Linked DNA regions of Homo sapiens: region 1 is linked to region 2. The links come from fine-mapping of genetic effects on gene expression. Tissue or cell type: monocytes after R848. Region 2 holds a variant in brackets; the other region holds the start of a gene. All regions are shown on one strand. Distances are between the middles of the regions.

Region 1 (8,000 bases), 42 kb before region 2:
GCAGACAGCTGGAATTTGTGGGGGCTTGCTGAGTACCCCTGTGTCTGGGAGCTCTGGGGTGATATGCAGAACTGAAGTGACGGTTTAGTGGCACTGATTTTGCTCCTGGATGTTGGTGTGGGACAGTGCCAACTTCTGTGGTGGACACACCCTAAGATTGTACAAAGTCTGTTCCGTTCATTGCCCTTCCCTGGTAGCTTCTGGAGAGCCCGAGGGTGGCCTTCCTATCCTCACATGGCAGGGATGCTGCCGGGCACCCTGCTGCCAATGTGGCTGCCCTCAGCCCACCGGGGACAGGACCCTGCCACCCCTCCCATGTCCCTCTGAGCCGGGACAGAGGTCTTCCTTCACCTCTACTTTTAGTTTATTATGAAGAATGCTGCTGCGAATATGTGTGTGTTTTGATTTCTCCCTGGTGCACCCCTAGGAGGGGGTAGCTAATTGGTAGCCCCATGTTTAACCTTTTGGGGAACTGTCACTTTTCCAAAGTGGCTGCAATGTTTATACCATATCAGCCGTGGATGAGGGTGCCAATTCCTTCACATCCTTGCCCGTGCCTGGTGTTTTGTTTTGTTTTTTTCTGTCTTCTCAATTTTATCCATTCTAGTGGGAATGAATTGGGGTTTTTTTGTGTGGGAAAATACACAGAGCATAACATTTACCATTTTAGCCATTTTAAGTGTACAGTTCCGTGGCACTGAGTACACTTACATCGTTGTAAAAACACCACCACCATCCATCTCTAGAACTTCTTCACTATCCCAAATTGAAACTCTGACCCTGTTACCAGAAAGGGGTCCAGATCCAGACCCCAAGAGAGGGTTCTTGGATCTCGTGCAAGAAGAAATTCAGGGTGAGTCCATAGAGTAAAGTGAAACAAGTTTATTAAGAAAGTAAAGGAATGAAAGAATGGCAACTCCATAGGCAGAGCAGCCTGAGGGCTGCTGGTTGCCCATTTTTATGGTTATTTCTTGAGGATATGCTAAACAAGGGGTGGATTATTCATGCCTCCCCTTTTTAGACCATCTAGGGTAACTTCCTGACATTGCCATGGCATTTGCAAACTGTTACGGTGCTGGTGGGAGTGTAGCAGTGAGGACCACCAGAGGTCATCTTGGTTTTGGTGGGCTTTGGCCAGCTTCTTTACCGCAACCTGTTTTATCAGCAAGCTCTTTATGACTTGTGCTGAACCCCCGTCTCACCCTGTGACTAAGAATGCCTTCACCTCCTGGGAATGCAGTAGGGCCTTATTTTACCCAGACCCCATTCAAAATGGAGTGGCTCTGGTTCAAATGCCTCTGACGGCCCCATTAAAAAATAAATTCCTATTCTCCCTCCCTAGCCCTTGGCAACCTCCATTCTACTTAATGAATTTGACTACTCTAGGGACCTCATTGAAGTTCATTTTACTTTGATTTGCATTTTCCTAATGGCTAATGATATCAAGCTGCTTTCCATGTGCATACTGGTCATTTGTGTATCTTTCTTGAAGAAATATCTATATCCTTTACTCCTTAAAATTAGGTTGTTTTATTGTATTACGACAAGTCCCTTGTCAGATATATGATTTGCAAATATTTTCTCCCATTCTATGGGTCATCTTTTCCCTTTTTTAGGGTGCCTTTTGAAGCATAAAAGTTTTTGGTTTTGATGAAGTTAAACTTATCTTTTTTCCTTTGCTCACTTATGCTTTTGGCATCATATGTAAGACATCATTGCCTCATCTGAGGTCAGATCAACTCCTGTGTGCTCTTCTAAGAGTTTTATAGTTTTAGCTCTTACATTTGGCTCTTGCATTCTGTTAATCTATGCTGAGTTAATTCGTGTAGATGGCGTGAGGTAAGGGCCCAGCTTCGTTTTTCCGCATGTGGGTATTCAGTTATTCCAATACCATTTGTTGAAAAGGTGATTCTTTTCCCATTGAGTTGTCTTGGCACCTTTGCTAACTCAATCGTCCATAAATGGATGCATTTATTTCTGGAACCTCAATTCTATTCTAGTGATCTCTGTCTATTGTTATGCTGGTAGCACTGTCTTGATAACTGTAGCTTTGTAGTGAGTTTTGAAATCAGGAAGTGTGTGTCTTCAGACTTTGTTCTTTTTCAAAGTTGTTTGGATGGTTTTTGTTCCCTCATACTTCCCTATAAAATCTAGGGTCATTTCTACAAAAAAGGCAGCTGAGAGTTTGATAAGGATTGTGTTGAATCTGCAGATCAACTTGAGGAGAACTGTCGTCATCTTAACAATCTTCTTTTTTTTTTTTTTTTGAGACGGAGTCTCACTCTGTCTCCCAGGCTGGAGGGCAATGGCGGGATCTCGGCTCACTGCAAGCTCCGCCTCCCAGGTACATGCCATTCTCCTGCCTCAGCCTCCTGAGTAGCTGGAACTACAGGCACCCACCACCACGCCCGGCTAATTTTTTTGTATTTTTAGTAGAGATGGGGTTTCACCGTGTTAGCCAGGATGGTCTCGATCTCCTGACCTCGTGATCCACCCGCCTTGGCCTCCCAAAGTGCTGGGATTACAGGCGTGAGCCATCACGCCTGGCCCGTCTTAACAATCTTCTAACCCATGAACACAGCATGTCCTTCCATTGATTTAGGTTGTCTTTATTTCCATGATGTTTTGCAGTTTTCAGTGTACAAGTCTTAACACTTCTTTTTAAAGTTTATTCCTAAGTATTTTGTTGTTTTTGACGCTATTGTAAACGAAATTATTTTGATGCTGTTGTAAATGGGAGTTGTTTTCTAAATTTCATGATCAGATTGTTCATTATGGGGACAATTGTTTTCTAAATTTCATCATCAGATTGTTCATAATATAATTACAGAGAAATATAATTAATTTTCAAATATCTTGTATACTGCAAACTTGCTGAATTCCTCTATTAGCTCTACAATTTTATGGATTTCTTGGGATTTTCTACATACAAGATCACCTTATTGTAAACAGAGATAATGTCTTCCTTTCCACTTTGGGAGGATTGCTTGAGGCCAGGAGTTTGAGACCAGCCTGGGCAACAGAGTGAGACCTCATCTCTACAAAAAGTACAAAAATTAGCCAGGTGTGGTGATGTGCGTCTGTTGTCCTAACTTCTCAGGAGGCTGAGGGGGGGGGATCACGTAAGCCCAGGAGTTTGAGGCTGCAGTGAGTTATGATTGTACCACTGCACTCCAGCCTGGGTAACAGAGCGCGACCCTGTCCCCCCTCCAACCTCCCCTCAAAATGATCATCTAAGAGCCTTTCCACTGTGGGGTGACGGTTGGTTCCTCATTTGCTGCGCTATCATTGGTTACTTGGGTCCCAAGGGGAAGGTTCTAGAAGCCCCAGGTACCGTGAGGAGACTCCCAGAAGTTATGTGGCAGTTGGAGCCCCTCGAGGGAAGGGAGCCATTTTCTTTCCTGGTTTGGGAAAGAGTTGCTCATCAGTTTGCGGGAGAAGCTGTTTGCCTTCAGCTGGTGAGCGGCCTTCAACCATGCTGGGGGAGTCGGAGGCCAAGGTGGAGGGAGCAGGGAGGCCTTCAGAGGATGGAGGTGGGACCTAGGCCCTGGCAGACAGCAGACCCTCCACTTACCCCAGAAGTGGCTCTGCTCGCCACCGGGAGCTGTTCATGGCTCTGGGACCCCGAGGCTGGCTGCCACGTACCAGCCTGACCCCTTCCAGGGCTCCAGACTCTTCCCTGCTCCTGGGAAGGCCTTGCCTCAGCCCCCTGGCTTCTCCTGGAAGCCCCTAGCCCCAGCTTCCTCCTGTGGAGTCCTGAAGGCCTGGGGCATGGGCCACCTCCCAGAGAAGCCGTCTCTGCCCCTCCGGAAGCATGGCCTGGGACAACCCTATTGTTAACTGGGACCTCCTGGCCTTCAGCCCAGGAAACGGCTGGGTGGGAGCCTGAGATGAGACCTCCCGATCGTGCAAGAAACTTGCGGGGTGTAGGGGCCCCTCAGCCCACACATGTTATGGCTTGGGAGGCAGCCCACCCCATGCCGTTCTTGGAAGAAAAGATGACTTTGTGAAAGCCCAAATCCACAAAATCAGTAAACCAGAGGATGTTTCCCTCCAGTCCAGTCGCCTGACCAGCTTGGCGAGACTTCCAATCAGGAACCTTCCAGGACTCGGGCTCCCCTGAGTTCCTGATCCCCCTAGGAAATGACGACGTGACGCGTCCCCGGGTCTCGGAGATCCTGGGTGGAGATTAATTCAGCAGCATGCTGAAAGCCCTGTGGGAACCTGGTGAACGAGTCATCTCCATAAATGCCACGCGGTGCTCCTCCTACTTGCCTGGTGGTGTCCCCTTTTTCTTTCACAGATGTGCCTGAATCGGGTGGCTTTGCTCGTGGACCGCCATGTTTCTGCCATTTGCTGGCCAAATATTCCCCAAGTCCTCTCTCAGAGATGTTTGGAGCCTTGAATAAATCTCAGACCATTTGAATAGCATCCAAATGCTATCCACTACTGCTTCCCATCATATAGTTGTTTTGCCGATATATAGTGGCCAGGGTGAAATAAACCTGTTCCGTGGTATTACGTGTCTTTTGGGGAACTGTAGGCTGTTACAAACTTAAAAGCAATAGCTTGGGTCAAACCAAAAGGCAGAATTTGTGAGTGCTTCCAACGTCATCTGTCCACCCTGATGCTTTTCAGCAGCTGCCAGGTCTGGAGCAGGCCAGCCCCAGCCCACGGACCCCCAGAGCAGCTGAATACCCCAGGGTTCCCCTTGAAATTCAGGAGCTGCATACCTCCCAGATTGTGATGAAAACACAGCATCAGGCGACCCTTTGCATTCAACCCTGCCCTTGCAGAACTCGCCTCCAAGGCCCCCACCTCAGGCCTCTTGCCAGAGCCTGTCTTTATTTGAAACTTTGGTATTTTGTTCATAAATTTGTTTGCATTCATTTTGATGTTTAAAAATATTGACATGCCTTTTCTCTTGATGACTGTTTGGGTGTGTCTTTAAATTCTGTAAGTACCTCACTTGCCTAAACTTTGGGACTTCAGGGTGTTCTTTAAGGGGATCCCTTCCCCCCAATTCTCTAGTTAACCCTACCCCCGAGCATCTGAGCAGCTTGTGAGGGGTCTGTCAGGAATTTGCAGCTCGATTCTTTTAGGGGTGCACGCTGGGGGCTGGAGGGAGAAAGGGTGCAGAGCAGAGTGAAAGTTAAGGTGCACCACGGCTGCGGCTAAGACTGAGCGCTGAGCCTCACGGCCTGCACGTGGGGTCTGCTTCCTTCTTGCGTTTCACACATACTCTGGGGCTGCGACGTCTTTTATTGCTTTCCCAGGACCTTTCAACCTGACCCCCCAGCCTCTTGTTCTGCCTTTTCCTACCCCATCCCCTTCACACTGTCTGGTTGCGGCCATTTCCTTTTCTCTCTTTCTCCAGCATTCATCTCTATCTTTCCCATCCTCTGAACTTTATGGTCACAGGATTGTAAGCACACACCACTTTTGGGCAGCCTCACTCCCGGGGCACCCCCCATGGCGGGGCCGGGGCAGGTGCCAGCACCTGCTAAAGCACCCCCACCCCAACCCAACCACAGCTAAAAACTGCACACTCTCGACCAACTGTTTTGTTCCTGCTCCGGTAGAAACAGAGATTTCCTGCGGTGCCAGGGATGGGTGGGAAATTGGGGAGCCCGGGAGACAGTTCGTACCTGTTTCTTGCACTCTTAACAGATACACAGTGTAAGGAAAGGCCAAGATGACAATGGCCCCGGACGTCAGACTAGAGTATCTGGAGGAAGTTGCCTCCATCGTCCTGAAGTTCAAGCCGGACAAGTGGAGCAAGCTGATAGGCGCCGAGGAGAACGTGGCCCTGTTCACAGAGTTCTTTGAAAAGCCCGACGTCCAGGTGCTGGTGCTGACGCTCAATGCAGCCGGCATGATCATACCCTGCCTGGGCTTCCCCCAGTCCCTCAAGTCCAAAGGGGTTTACTTCATCAAGACAAAGTCCGAGAACATCAACAAGGACAACTACAGGGCCCGGCTCCTTTACGGCGACATCAGCCCCACACCCGTGGACCAGCTGATCGCGGTGGTGGAGGAGGTGAGTGCGTCCAGGCTGCCATCCGGGGTGTCGAGCACGACCGACTTCTCGGGAGCGGCCTTGAGTCCTGCTGCTCAGCCTGGAGTCCCTGGGCCAGCAGCAGCTGCAGAGCCGGGGAGGGATTGGAAATGCAGGCGCTCGGGCCCCGTCCACCCTGACCTGCTGAGACAGACCTGCTTGCTTTTGGTTTTTAAATTTTTTTTTTTTTTTGAGACAGGGTCTCACTCTGCTTCCCAGGCTGGAGTGCAGTGGTGGGAGCACAGCTCACTGCAGCCTCAACCTCCTAAGCTCAACCAATCCTCCAGCCTCAGCCTCCTGAGTAGCTGGGACCACAGGCATGCACCACCACACCTGGCTAATTTTCGTATTTTTTGGTAAGAGATGAGGTCTCACCAAAAAATAGCCTGTTGCCCAGGCTGGTCTCAAGACTCCTGGGCTCAAGCGATCCTCCTGCCTCAACCTCCCAAACTGTTGGGATTATAGGCGTGAGCCATCATGCCCGGCCACAGACCTGCTGTCTAACAAGACCTCCAGGTGGTGCTCGTGCCCTTGAAGTCTGAGAAGCCCCGAGCATCCCCTTGTTCTCTCTGGACAGCATTGAGACTGCCATGCTGTGCCGGGTACGGTTGCTGCCCATGGCCTGGGAAGGTGGGGACTGAGTACTGGCAGATAGGTTTCTCCAATTTTGAGACTTTGACTTAAGAAAGGGGAAAAAATGGAGTGTCATTTTATGTGTCCCTCTGCTGTCCCCCTTGGCAGGTGCTGTGTAGGTGGGGGGGACACACTTTGGGGATTCGGACCTCCAGAATGGGGGTGCCTTATCCTTCCTGGTCATCACTCTTCTCATCTGCAGTACAGGGGCCTGTGTGCTTCGCTTGTACACCAGACATTTTCTCACAGTCCTGGAGGCTAGAGGTTGAAGTTGAAGGTGTCGGCGGGGTTGGTTTTCCCCAAGGCCTCTCTCCTTGACTTGCAGATGGACATCTTCTCCCTGGGTCCTCATGTGGTCGGCCTTCTGTGCATGTCTAATCTCCCCTCCTCGTAAGGACACCTGTCAGACTAGGGCCCACCCTAGTAATCTGATTTTAATTACTCACCTCTTTTTTTTTTTTTTTGACAGTATTTTTGCTCTGTTGTCCAGTCTGGAGGGCAATGGTGTGATCTCAGCTCACTGCAACCTCCACCTCCCAGGTTCAAATGATTCTCTTGCCTCAGCCTCCCAAATAGCTGGGATTATAGGCAGGTGCCACCATGCCTGGCTAATTTTTATATTTTCAGTAGAGACGAGGTTTCACCATGTTGGCCAGGCTGGTCTCAAACTCTTGACCTCAGGTGATGTACCTGCCTCGGCCTCCCTAAGTCCTAGGATTTACAGGTATGAGCTACCGCCCCCAGCCCTTACTCACCTCTTTAAAGACCCTATCTCCAAATAGTCACATTCTAAGGTGCTGGGAGTTAGGGCTTCAGCAGATGGATTTGGGGGACACAGTTTGACCCATCACAGTCCTCCTAGGCTTTTAGCAAGGAGTGTGTGCTATGGGTGCAAGAGCTTGGGGATGGCTTTGGTACCACCAGGACAGGGCAGCTGGTATAAACTCCATGACCGGCCACACCTCCTTCTGGAAGAAGGATCCAGTTTTCCCAGGGCTCCAGACACCAGGTCTTTGGAATCCCCCTGGGGACCTGGCTCTGTGCGGGACCCAGTTTTCCCAGGGCTCCAGACACCGGGTCTTTGGAACCCCCCGGGGACCTGGCTCTGTGCGGTTGCCGAGCTGGTGAAGGCACAGGGGGCGGAACCACAGAAGTGTTTCCTTTTAGGTCCTCTCTTCTCTGTTAAACCAAAGTGAGAACATGGCTGGATGGCCCCAGGTGGTCTCGGAAGACATCGTGAAGCAGGTCCACAGGCTGAAGAATGAAATGTTTGTGATGAGTGGCAAGATCAAAGGCAAAACCTTGCTGC
Region 2 (8,000 bases):
TGAATTCCTGACCTCATGATCGACCAACCTCGGCCTCCCAAAGTGCTGGGATTACAGGCGTGAACCACTGTGCCCAGCCCTGCATCTTTTTTGTTGAGATGGTTTCTAAATGATTTTGAGTACCGCCAGGAGGCCAAGATCAAAGGCTCCCCCAGGCTACCAACAACAAAGGAACGTGGCAGTGTCGTGCCCTTGTACCGACCAGGGAGGGTGGATGGTGTTTGAGTCTGGCATATGGGTCTCAGATGCCAGCTGGTAACCAGTCACAGACCCAAAATTCAGTTGACGAAAGTACTCGTCACTACAGACTGTCCCAGTGAAAGCGTCTCAACAAAAACCATAAAGAAGTCCCAGTAACAAAGGGTTCTCCTCAAAGAGTTCCAGGGAGTCCTCCTACTTTGTGAGTAGCCTGGGGGCAGGAGCCGACCTGAGTCTTTAGAGAAGTCTGGTCACACAATTGACCGTTTGTCCCAATTAGCACCTCACTCAGATACTGATACAGCCCCCTCCTGCTCATAGACAAATTGGGGGGCTCAAAAGCTCATAACCCACAGGTCCAATGGGGACTCATTCAGGGGGAGATCAGTGGCCACAGTGTGATCTCACAGCCTGGTGGATCCTGGCCCACATTTTGAGAATCGTTAGTTTGGCAGGAAGAGCACTTGGGTTCTCAATCCCATCACTGTAAACCAGAGCAGCACCTGCAGCCCTGCAGCCTCACAGGGGCCTCCAGAACTCTGTAAACGGGGACTTCCAAGGGAGAGGGACAGGCAGGCTTGGCCAGCCCCTGCAGTACCTGCTTTGTGTGTCAGTGATTCATTTAGCCCCTGTAGTAACCCAGAACAATGGAAACAATGTCTCCATTCTTTTTTTTTTTTTTTTTTTTTTTTTGGAGACAGAGTTTTGCTCTTGCCCAGGCTGGAGTGCAATGGCACAATCTCAGCTCATTGCAACCTCCGCCTCTTGGGTTCAAGCGATTTCCTGCCTCAGCCTCCCGAGTAGCTGGGGTTCCAGACACCCACCACCAGGCCCAGCTAATTATTTTGTATTTTTAGTAGAGACGGGGCTTCGCCATGTGGGCCAGGCTGGTCTCAAACTCCTGACCTCAGGTGATCCACCCGCCTTGGCCTCCCAAAGTGCTGGGATTACAGGCATGAGCCACTGCGCCTAGCCAACAATGTCTCCATTCTATAAAATATTTAGCCTCATTTTATATATTTGGGGAAACTGGGAGTTAAGTGACTCCCCAAGGCCTCAGAGCTGGCAAGTAGCAGGTGTGGGCTTTGAACCGAGGTCTGAGTTCTACCTGATCCTGCCCCTCCCCTTGCCCCAACCTGCCCCTGCCTGCTTTTGGCCTTGTGGCTGTACATTTGGCTCTGTAGCGATTGCTCAAGGAGCGGGGTGCGCTGAGACACGAGCTCTCAGAAGCTTCCCAGATAAGTGGAAGGCAGTGACACATTGATGGTACGGAGTGGATGATCAGGGCACTGAGAATCATCCGATGGAGGACAGAGGTGTTGACCACTGCCAACCCCACCCCTCTTTCAGGAGAGTATCGCTCCCCTGTTTGAGATCCGCATGGAGCTGGACGAGGATGGGCTGACCTTCAACCCGACCCTGGAGGTGGGCTCAGATCGCGGCTTCCTGGCACTGATCGAGGGCCTGGTCAACGACATCTACAACGTAGCCAGGCTCATCCCTCGGCTGGCCAAGGACAGGATGAACTACAAGGTCAGTCCTGGCCTCTTCTGGCCGTACACAGGGTCATCCATTGCTTTCCCCATTTGGTGTTGCCGCCCTAACTCGGCAAGGCTTCGCCGTTTACCTTTTCTTTTTTTCTTTTTTTTTTTTTGAGACGGAATCTCACTCTGTCGCCCAGGCTGGAGTGCAGTGGCGCGATCTTGGCTCACTGCAACCTCCGCCTCCTGGGTTCAAGCCATTCTCCTGCCTCAGCGTCCCGAGTAGCTGGGATTACAGGCACCCGCCACCACACCCGGCTAATTTTTTTATTTTTTTTTAGTAGAGACTGGGTTTAACCGTGTTAGCCAGGATGGTCTGGATCTCCTGAACTCATGATCCACCCGCCTCGGCCTCCCAAAGTGCTGGGATTATAGGCGTGAGCCACCGCGCCCGGCCCTGCTTACCTTTTAAATGACATCGTGTGACCTCTAGGATGACATGGCCACTTCTCTCCCCACTCCCACATCTGTCGTCCTTCCCAAAGCAGCTTCTTCTCAGTCAACCTGCCTGGGTTTCATTCCCTCATCATCCTTCCAACCCCCCGACACGATGCCAAGAGGGTAACCTTTCCCAACTTCCTGACTGTTCACTCAGTCCTGTAATTTTTTTGAGACAAGGTCTCACTCTGTCACCCAGGCTGGAGTGCAGTGGTTCAATCTCGGCTGACTGCAGCCTCTGCCTCCCGGGCCCAATTGATCCTCCCGCCTCAGTCTCCCAAGTAGCTGGGATTACGAGCATGCATCACCAAGCCCAGCTTGGTGATGTATTTTTTTGTAGAGATGGGGTTTTGCCATGTTGTTGCCCAGAGTGGTCTTAAACTTCTTAATTTTTTTATTTTTTGAGACAGAGTCTTGCTCTGTTGCCCAGGCTGGAGTGCAGTAGCATAATCTCAGCTGACTGCAACCTCCGCCTCCTGGGTTCAAGCGATTCTCCTGCCTCAGCCTCCTGAGTAGCTGGGACTACAGGTGCATGCCACCATGCCTGGCTAATTTTTCTTTTTTTTTATATATTTTTAGTAGAGACGGGGTTTCACCATGTTGGCCAGGATGGTCTCAATCTCCCGACCTTGTGATCCACCCGCCTTGGCCTCCCAAAGTGCTGGGATTACAGGTGTGAGCCACCGTGCCCGGCCTCAGTCCTGTAATGTAAACACTGATTCTCCCAGTACTCAGGCAATTTGACAAATGTGCCTCCCACTGCCTTCTGAAATCATCTCGTCTAAACGCATCAAACAAGACACACGGAGAGCCTGGCCAGGCTCTGGGGTAGGAAGGACAACAAAAGTCATGGGAAATTCAGCTCCCCGCTTAAGGGAGGTTTGAGGTGGTGTGTTTGTCAAAGCACCTATTTGTATAGCAATAAAAAAAAATCTGAAAAGACTTAAGTGACCTAAATGTTTGTGGAAGAGGGGAGTGGCTTGACCAATTCTGGCCCAAACCCAGATTCTGTGAATTGTCACAATGAGCCAAGGATGGAAAGGTGTTGTGACAGGTTATTAGACATTTATCAAGTTACAGAACAATGTTTAGAATATGGTTTCATTTGCTTAAACAAGCAAAAATCTGGGTGAGTGCTTACCAGGAAGGGAGGAAGGAGGGGAGGGGAGAGGGATGTGGCTGCAGGCGTTTCCTCTCATGCATTTCTGCGTTGTTTGAATTGTAAAATAATGGACACGTATGATTTGTCATAACATATATTTACAGCGAGATGAGCTGTCCTGTCCAGGAGGGAGGGATGTGCGTGTGCTCGTGTGTGTA[C/T]GCGTGTGCTTGGATGCATATGTGCCCGTGTGCGTATTTGCATGTGTGGTGGGGAGGCATGCTTGTACAGAGGTGACATGAGGACACGAGGGAACAGCTAATGACCTGAGAAGGTCAAGGACAGCTCCTGAGAGGAGTGGGCGTGTGAGCGGATTCTGGAAGGGTGGGAGGAGGTTTCCATGCTGAGAAGATGGCTGTGATTTTAGGCCCAAGTGCAAGCAGCAAGCTGTTCCAGAGTTGAGAATAGAATTTGCCCCAGTTATGCAGACGCTAGGTTAGCACATGTCCTCAGAATCAGTGTGTCCCGGGTGTGCCCCTCCCACTGTCCCCAAAGCAGGCTGCTCTTGGGCACCCACGGTTGCTGCAGACAGAGCTGCTCCACCCCTGGGCTCTGCCAGCACAAACACTCAGGCTGCCTTGCAGACACCCTGGGACGCTCAGGCAGAACATTCCAGAGCTGAAGGGCCTGTTGCCCAGGAGAAGGGTCCCTCGAAAGCCTGCTGGTCTAGCAGAGTCTTACCTGGTGCCAAGCTGTGGAAGACAATGAGAGAGTCAGGCATCTAGACTGCTGGGTCCCAGGGCCACTTCCCAGAGACCCAAGTACCCTAGCTTGGTGGCAGAGAGTACCCAAGGGATGCTTCCCATGGGTACCAGGGTGGCCAACCCAGAGGAGTTGGGTCAGGACAAGGAGGAGATAGAATGTGGGCCCCAGGCTGCCACAGGGATTTAGAGAGCTGAGCTGCCCACAGGGGACACCAGCAAGGGGCAGAGACCCCAGGCAGCAGGTCTCACCTGCCTCTGGTATGCCAGGCTGCCACCAGCCCAGCCCAACTGGAACTTGGATCCCACCTGGGGAGATCCAAAGGACTGCAGGGGACAATCTCAGCTGGAGCAGGTAGATGCCTGGAAGTTACAACACTGAAATCCAGAAGCACCTGCCTGTGCTCTGAACACTGCACTCCCAACCCTGAGCAGAAAGAGGGGCCATGAGGAGGGGTGGGAGCCAAATGTCAGGCACAGGCGAGCCCATGGCTGAATTCTGAAGCACACACCAAATGCTTTCCTGCAGCCACGAGGAGCTTCAGGTTTCTCTCCCCTGTGGCTTCTTTCCATCCACAACTTACATGCAGGGTGGCCCGGCCCAGCCCTAGGGCCAACCTTCCCCTTCCATCCCAGCCCCACTGACTTCACCTCCTCAATTACACCGTTTCCTCGTGCCACCCCTTACCAACGAGGTCCCCTGCACAGACAAGATCTCCATGCACATCTGGGTCCCGATGGGGCCTCTCTGCAGCTGTCATGTGGGCTCTGGGCTATAGGCTGTCTTCAGTTGTCTGGTACCTGACCCTGGGTGATTTAGGGCAGGGGAAATACTGGCTTGGTGTGAGAGTTGGGTAAAGGGGAGTGGTTGAGGGTCGGCTGGTTTGCATATGCATGCCCCCAGATGAGCCTTTTGCTATCTCAAAGAATTGCCTAGCCCTGGGAAAGGCCGGCTCTTCCTGGCCCATAAGGTTTTTTTATTTTATTTTTTTAAGATGTCAAAATTGGGCTGGGCGCATTGGCTCACGCCTGTAATCCCAACACTTTGGGAGGCTGAGGCAGGTGGATCACCTGAGGTCAGGAGTTTGAGACCAGCCTGACCAACACGGTGAAACCCCGCCTCTAATAAAAATGCAAAAAATTAGCCAGGCATGGTGGTGGGAGCCTGTAATCCCAGCTATTTGGGAGGCTGAGGCAGGAGAATCACTTGAACCTGGGAGGCAGAGGGTGTAGTGAGCTGAGATCGGGCCACTGCACTCCGGCCTGGGTGACAGACCGAAACTCTGTCTCAAAAAGAAATAAGATGTCAAAATTTCATAAGATGCAGACAATAAAAATGTGATTAATACACACACCGACCACCTTGGGATTCTCCAGTCCTGTATATAAGCCAACGAGTTCTCTCTTTGCTTAACCAGTTTGGGTTGGGTTTTCTGTCACTGGCAACTAAAAAGATCCGTATAGCACTGGCCTCTCGTGCTCTCTGCTCTAGCCACCGACAGTAGACTTCCTTTAGTTCCCCTAACACGCTGCCTCCTCCCACCACGGGGCCTTTGCACGTGCTTTGCTGTTGCCAGGAAAGCCGCTTCTCTTGCTCCTTGTCTACCCATCCATCAGCTCTCAGACCAATGGCCATTTCCTCGGGGCCATTCCCTGACCTGCTCCCCATTTCACCTGAAGCAAGGGGGAGGGTGGAGATGCTTTTTTCTGTGATTCTTTGATGAATGTCAGACCCCATTCCTGGGCTGTACACTCCCTGCCTGTGCCCCAGTATCTATCCCAGCATGTGGTACGCAGTGAGAGCGAGCTATCGAATGAATGAATCAATGTGTGAGTCATCTCGGGGTTCCCCAGACAAACGTCACACTTGGCATACCTTCCCATGGCAGAATATTGCAAATCGGCAAAGGTTCCTATTTCCCGTGGTGAGAGCTTGGGCCAGGCACAGTGGCACGTGCCTGTGGTCCCAGCTACTTGGGAGGCTGAGGCAGGAGGATCGCTTGAGCCCAGGAGTTCTGGGCTGTAGTGTGCTATCCACTAAGTTTGGCATCAGTATGGTGACCTCCCAGGAGTGGGGGACCACCAGGTTGCCTAAAGAGGGGTGATCGGCCCAGGCTGGAAAAAGAGCAGGTCATCATGAGAGATTGGAAGCCCTTTCGCCAACAGAGAACCACTTCTCAAGGCCGAGAGGACAACACCTAAATTATGAACCAGGCAACATACCTCCCCTTTTTGCTTCTCCCCTGCCCCTTTCAGATGGACCTGGAAGATAACACAGACCTCATAGAGATGAGGGAGGAGGTGTCCAGCCTGGTCATCAATGCCATGAAGGAGGCCGAGGAGTACCAGGATTCCTTTGAGAGGTACTCCTACCTCTGGACGGACAACCTGCAGGAGTTTATGAAGAATTTCCTGATATATGGGTGTGCAGTCACTGCGGAGGACTTGGACACCTGGACAGATGACACCATCCCCAAGACACCGCCCACCCTGGCTCAGTTCCAGGAGCAGGTGCGTGCAGACCTCACCCACCAGCCTCCTTGTCTCCAGAGTCTTCCAGGAGAGGATCACCAGGCTTGCTTTAAAACTTGGGTGAATTGTTTTAAGATGCAGGTTTCCAGGTAGGGCAAGGCAAACATCAGGAGGTGACCACCATTAGAAAGGCAGTTTGTTACTTACAGTTCCCAAGAAGGGGGCATAGCACACCACACAGGCCTGCACGGGGTAGCATCAGGGTCAGTCAGGAGGCAGAGGGAGCTGGGGAAAATGTGGGGAAAATAAAGAGCCTTTATTGTGGCTTCCAGGGAAGGAATGGGCAGAGGTCACAGGCTTAGGGTTGGCAAGTTTGAATAATTTCAGCAGGCTCTAGGCTATAGGGGCTGTCTGGTACCTGACCTCAGGGAGATGAGGGCTGAGGGCTAGTGGGTAGCAGCCCAGAAGGTAAAACCCTGTGAGAGCCCCATCAAGGGGATGGTCGGAGGTGTGGGCTCCGGGTTGGCTCATTTGCATATGAAACCACACCCCCAGGTGAATTGTTTGTTGTCTCTCAAAATTGACTAGGCCTGGGAGGGGTCGTCCATGGGCAAGGCCCCAGATGTCAGAGCATGAAGAACACAGAAAATCACACCTGTCAGTGTAATAACCTCAAATGTAAATGGATTCAATTCCCCACTTAAAAGATATAGATTGTCTGAATGGATGAAGGTAACCCCAATATATGCTGCTTAGAAGAAACTCACTTCACCTGTAAAGACAGATTGAATGCAAAAGAATAGAAAAAGAGATTCCACACAAACAGAAACCAAGAACAAGTAGGAATAACTATAGTTACATCAGATAAGACAGACTTTATGTCGGCCGGGCGTGGTGGCTCACGCCTGTGATACCAGCACTTTGGGAGGCCGAGGCGGTTGGATCGTGAGGTCAGGAGATCGAGACCATCCTGGCTAACACGGTGAAACCCCATCTGTACTGAAAATACAAAAAATTAGCTGGGCGTGGTGGCAGGCGCCTGTAGTTCCAGCTACTCGGGAGGCTGAGGCAAGAGAATGGTGTGAACCCAGGAGGCGGAGCTTGCAGTGAGTCAAGATCACGCCACTGCACTCCAGCCTGGTGACAGAGCAAGACTCCATCTCAAAAAAAAAAAAAAAAAAAAGACAGACTTTATGTCACAAACAGTAAAACGAGACCAAGAAGGTCACTATGTAATGACAAAAGGATCAACTCAGCGAGAGGATTTAACAATTCTACATATCTATGCGCCCAGCACCAGAGCACCCAGATATATAAAGCAAACAGTGGTAGATCTAAAGGGAGAGACCCCAGTACAGTAACAGTTAGGGTTTTCAACACCCTGCTCTCAGCGTCAGACAGATCATCTAGACAGAAAATCAGCAAAGAAACATTGGAGTTAAACTGCACTTTAGATCACAGGGACCAACAGACAGCTACAGAACACTTTAC

What was found. PIP is the estimated chance that this variant, and not a neighbour inherited with it, causes the effect.
Region 1: it holds the start of DNAH17, and the variant in region 2 is fine-mapped to the expression of DNAH17 in monocytes after R848 (Quach 2016, PIP 0.95). The same link has a PIP of 0.9 or more in monocytes after LPS.

Annotation. Positions count from the first base shown.
Region 1 is chr17:78,572,753-78,580,752 of GRCh38, reverse strand. It overlaps DNAH17 (dynein axonemal heavy chain 17), which reads left to right and starts at 3,357. Exons shown (of 81, transcript NM_173628.4): 1 at 3,357-3,458; 2 at 5,671-6,040; 3 at 7,859-8,000. The coding sequence starts at 5,696.
Region 2 is chr17:78,531,030-78,539,029 of GRCh38, reverse strand. It overlaps DNAH17 (dynein axonemal heavy chain 17), which reads left to right. Exons shown (of 81, transcript NM_173628.4): 19 at 1,549-1,731; 20 at 6,294-6,548. It also overlaps the pseudogene RN7SL454P. Among named protein-coding and RNA genes, the nearest start is that of DNAH17, 42 kb to the left of the region's middle. RefSeq lists an enhancer at 5,463-6,662. The variant C/T (reference allele first, on the strand shown) is at 3,498.